Linked DNA regions of Homo sapiens: region 2 is linked to region 1. A link means that fine-mapping ties the variant in region 1 to the expression of a gene that starts in the linked region. Tissue or cell type: CD8 T cells. Region 1 holds a variant in brackets; the other region holds the start of a gene. All regions are shown on one strand. Distances are from middle to middle.

Evidence for each region. PIP is the estimated chance that this variant, and not a neighbour inherited with it, causes the effect.
Region 2: it holds the start of ERICH1, and the variant in region 1 is fine-mapped to the expression of ERICH1 in CD8 T cells (Kasela 2017, PIP 0.95). The same link has a PIP of 0.9 or more in CD4 T cells.

The regions. Positions count from the first base shown.
Region 1 is chr8:634,440-637,054 of GRCh38, reverse strand. It overlaps a transcript of ERICH1 not described here. Among named protein-coding and RNA genes, the nearest start is that of TDRP, 91 kb to the right of the region's middle. The variant T/A (reference allele first, on the strand shown) is at 1,612.
Region 2 is chr8:729,960-732,459 of GRCh38, reverse strand. ERICH1 (glutamate rich 1) reads left to right here and starts at 1,236. Exons shown (of 6, transcript NM_207332.3): 1 at 1,236-1,320. The coding sequence starts at 1,299.

The DNA of each region.
Region 1 (2,615 bases):
AAGGAACAGGCTTGGTGAGCTGGTTTGGACGCCTTCGGTGCGTTTGCAATCTGGCTTAAAGTCCTGAACCAACCCTCCGACCCTGCAGAAAGTGGACTGTGCAGGCTGGGAAATGCTGAGAAGGAAGTCCTGAACCAACCCTCCGACCCTGCAGAAAGTGGGCTGTGCAGGCTGGGAAATGCTCAGAAGGTGACTCCCAACACGTGGCCTGGAAGTCATGGAGGATTCTGGACGGGAGGGCAGAGCCCAGAGCATCCCTCCTGGCCCCTCAGGGGAGCACGTCTGGGGCCTCATCAGGGAGCTGCCTGCCGAGGCCAGGTCTGCACCGTTCCTCCCCAGAGGTCACAGTGTCGGAGGCTGCACAGCCACTGCAGCAGCGACCCTTTATTTGGACTGCGCTTTTGTTGTAGGTGTCCTGTCTGCTGTTGTGCATTTGGTGGGACAGTGCTGAGGGTTTGGTGGACAGGGCTGAGGGTAAGTGGAGGGCTTGTGCTCAGTGCACAGGCCTCCGTCCGTGAGGAGACTCTGTTGGGCCCACGTGGGGCAGAACCCAGGCAGATGCCCCGATTCTGAGCTAAAGTCGGGAGAGGAAGGCACTCTGGGCCGTCTCCTTTGGGAACAGCTAAGAGTATTTTCTATGAGGGAGGAACGATGAAAAGGCATCCCGTGACCAGAAGGACAGTCTCTAGCAGAAACCATCAATGATTTCCACACATCCGAGGCCTTGGCTCCCTGGTTGTGGCTGCACCTAGTTCCCAGTTGACGTGCAACCCCACGTGGCCACGCAGCTGAGCTTCAGGGAGGCTGTGAACGCCCAGCTCGGCTCAGGGCCATGGAGGTGGTTGGGGCGCAGGGATTCAGCTCGGCCCAGGGCAGTGGAGGTGGCCGGGGCGCAGGGATTCAGCCGCCTTAGAGCGCGCCAGACATTAGCCCCAGGCTGAGTGTTTTCCACAGAGAATGCTATTAACAGGATCCCAGCTTTTGCCTCTCTGAGAGATGGCATGAAGGAGCCCACAGCCTCGTTGCACCAGGTGGCCCTGGCAAGGTGCAGCTTTGGGCTGTTTCTGCCGAGGCGGAGGCCTTCTCGCCCTGGTTGAACGGCTCGCAGGATGAGGAATCACCGCACCTGCCGCGTAAGAGCCGCTTGCAAGTTAAATGGGGTGAACCTTTGAAGGACCTGCTGCGTTTTGGATCCAGAGTTGGTTGAACACAAACTTTGGTGAGCCAACCGTCCCTGCTGTGGGGTGCAGCACGCATGTGGACCACAGACTCACGGACACACACACACACGCTGGGGGAGCGTCGGCCCCACTCGATGGTGACAAGTGTGCTCACACCCCGTTGCTAGAGCCTCCAGGGACCCTGCTTGGGAAGCCAGTCATGACAGGTGAGCGTGAGGGTGCAGGGACGGGTTGCTGGGAGTCCCTGGACACATCCCGCAGGGTCCTCTGGCAGGTCGGGGCCGGGCCGGCTGGCCACTACGTCCAGGTCGACCACAGCTGTGCCGCCTGCGGGCTGTGATCTGGGCTCCCAAGACCACCCATGTATGAGGGAGGACAGGTGGGGACTGGGTGGGGCGTTGGTGCAGGTGAACGCCCTAGACAGCCCCTC[T/A]CACAGCCAGCCTTAGCTGTCACTATTGTTAGTGGTGATGAGCCCTGCGGGGACTTTGGAGGGAAGCTCAGGCTGGTCCCAACGGCCCGGGCTTGGCGTTTATCCGTTATACCCGGATAAACCCGTGTGGGGGGCTCCATCACAGACTTAGACGCCTGTTTTCTCTATGGACCTGACGCAACTCAAGGGAAACTCATAAGCTCGGATGTGTATTTCCTGGCTCTTTCCTGAGGCTGAGGGGCCTGTCCTCGGGGGGTTTCCTGAACAGAGGTCACCATGAAATGGTCACAGGGAGAGGCAGATGCGGCCACGCCCACTCCTGGTGAGGTGCTTTTTTTTTTTAGCTGAGTGGCTCCGGCAACCCCTTGAGTCCACGTCCCTGAGTGTCCAAAGCCTGGGACACCCCCAGGTGCGGTCTGAAGCCACGGGTGGCCAGGCTGCAGGAGGGAACTCCGACGGCCACCGTGATCCCTTTCCCTCCTTCCTTCCCCAGAGGCACCAAGAGGGCAGCCACAGCCCCAGCTCCCAAGGTCCTTGCGGGACGCTGCCCTGTTACCTGATTCCTGGAAGGAGAGAGGCTATAGAGCTGCAAAACTCTTAAGAGACAAAAAAGAACCTTTCCCTGATTTTCTGATGCTTGACCTGGGCTGCTCAGCGGGGTTTGGAAGTGCAGAGGCTTCCGGTCGCCAAGGTCATCCCGCGTGGGACTCAGTGTCACAGCGGCCCCTCTCACACCCGGGACCAGCTGAGTGGGTGCCCACGGCAGCCCCCCACCCATCGTGGGGGCTGGTCCGGCTGCTCCGCCAGCTGTCCTTCTGCGCACACAGTGGGCACCTACTGCACGCATGGCACTGTGCTTAGAGCTGGAGTGAGCCGCAAGCAAACCTGCTGTTGAAGGTGCCCGCCCGACGGGGCCGCCCTGAGCATGGGTGTGCAGACGTATCCTCGAGACCCTGTTCAGTGTTTTGGGTGTACGCCCAGGAGACGAATTGCTGGATGCTGTG
Region 2 (2,500 bases), 95 kb before region 1:
CTCCCCTTATCCTGCCCTTGCTTCTGGTCCCCAAACTCAAACAGGGCAGCCGTTCTCCTGGGACATCGTTTCCCTCCTGTGGGCTCTCTTTCCCTGGGCACCCCCAGTCTTGCTCCCTCACCTACCTCAAGCCCGCGCCCATCACTCTACAGTTAGGCCCTACCAGCTTCATTTTCCTCCAAAACACCCATCTCCGTGGGTTCCTCTCCTGAGACAGCCCACATGAGGAACAGCGCCTGGCACACACCTGGGAAATGTTTTGGAAGAAACGAATTCAAGGAGGAGGGTCCTGAGGGGGTGGAGCGGGAGGGCAGAGGCCCTTGGAGCTGGACAGGGAGACAAGAAGGGGTCTGGCAAGCCGGGGTGACGTGGGGGCCGCTGCCCTGACCACTCCCTGTGTCCCACAGGTGCCTGGGGGCCAGGGACACCGCCCTGGCCATGCCCTGTGTCCAGCAGGTGCCTGGGGGTTGGGGTCACCGCCCTGGCCACTCATGTGTCCAGCAGGTGTCTGGGGACCGGCTGGCCATTCCCTGTATCCTGTAGGTGCCTGGGGGCCAGGGACACCGCCCTGGCCATTCCTTGTATCCTGCAGGTGCCTGGGGGCCGGGGACACCGCCCTGCCCACTCCTTGTATCCAGCAGGTGCCTAGGGGCTAGGGGTCACCGCCCTGGCCACTCCCTATATCCTCCAGGTGCCTGGGGGCTGGGGTCACAGCCAGGGCCACTATCCGTGTCTCGCAGGTGCCCGGGGACCGGGGACACCGCCCTAGCCACTCCCTGTATCCTGCAGGTGCCTTGGGGCCGGGGGCACTGCCCTGGCCATTCCCTGTGTCCGGCGGGTGCCTGGGGGCGAAGCGGGGACTGGGGATCCGCAGGTGCACCCGTGGGGTTGGGGGTGGGCGCCTCTCCTCTGGGGCCCTCCGTTCCCCTCTTCTCCACAACGCCCTCCCTAGCGTTCGCCCCCAGAGTTCCGCCACCGCGTAGAGCAGTCGCCGCCAGCGCTCTCACAGCGTCCTCAGGTCCCCAAGAGCCCGCACCGCCGCCCCCGCAGCCCTCCCTCCGCGCATGCTCCACAGCGGGGCTCCCAGAGGCGGGTCTGGAGCCTCGCGACACGCCTACAGACTCGATATCAGCCAATCTACGGCCGTGATGTAGTTGACTGACCGCCCGTGGCGGGGTCCCGTATTCGGATTGGGCATTCCTGCTGTTGTGGGCGGACCCAGGAGGGCGGAACCCGGAAGGCACGGCGCTCAGCTCAGGACCGCGCGCCGTGGTCTGAGGTCCGCGGCAGGGTCCCGCATGGCGGCGCACAGGAAGCACGGTAGGTGGGTGCGGTGCGGAGGCCTGCCCAGACCCCAGACCCGGCTCTCGGCTCAGACCGCGGTGTTGACTCGGGACCCCGACCCCGGCCCCTTTCCAGGCCCCACCCCAAACCCAGACCGACTCCCCACCTCCACCCCAGTCCCTACCCATCCCCCGCTCTTACCCCGGACCGCGGCCCACCCCTCGCCCGTGTTGTTGCTTGCATGGCTGCTGGTCGGGCCGGCCCTGCCAGGCCCCACCTGGTGTCTGGGGTCCTGGGCGGAGGCGAGCCCAGCCAGGGATTCGTGTTCTTAGCAGAGCCCCTGTTGGTGAGTGAGTAGGAGCCGCTCAGCTCTTCAGAGGGGTCCTAGCCCAGGGCTCCGGGGTGGGGCTGCAGCCGGCTCCGGCAGCCTCACCGAAAAGTACAGCAGAACCTCCCAGAGCCACTGTGTCCTCATCTGAGAGACGGAGGTCATGGTGTTTACCTTCAGTGGACCTAAGGTGTGGGGCGCATCCTAGTGCTTATTAAATTCTGTGATAGCATTAGTACCAAAGACAGGAGGAGAATAAATAGAATTGGTTAACCTGGCCGTGCCTTAGAACGGAAGTGTTAGAAAATAAAGCGTGCTCCTGCTTCCTGCAAACCCCAGCTCATTACCCTCACCGTGTAATCATCATCATAATGAAAAGAGTGGCGGTTTTTGACATGAATCTCGTGTTACTTGGATTAATTCAGGCGCTGATGAATTTTTTTCCTTCTCTATGTTTAAAACTGATAATCATGTTTTTCCCTTTGAAATGAAAAGATAATGGCAAACTATAGTTATAAAACAATTGCTTAAAAAGAAAAAATTTCTCAGTGAGGCAGAATGTGGAGAAAAATATGGTCTCAAGTCTTCCTTTTCAGGGACACACTGCACGTGGGCTTCCCCCTCTCCTTCAGGACCAGGGAATTGTCACCTGATCAGCTCACAGGTTAAAAATGACCTAAGAGTTTTTAAGCAGTCACATGCTAGGCTCTAAAATGGACATTCACGTATGTTAATGAGCACCAGAAATACCTTGTTCATGACCCTCTCCTGGAAGCAGGGCTGGCAGGCTGTGAATTCAGTGTCGAGGTTCTTAGGAGCAGACCTGACGGTCAGCTGCCTGCAAAGCTGTGCCTGCCTTCTTGGTGGGGGGCTTCTTGCTACTGCAGG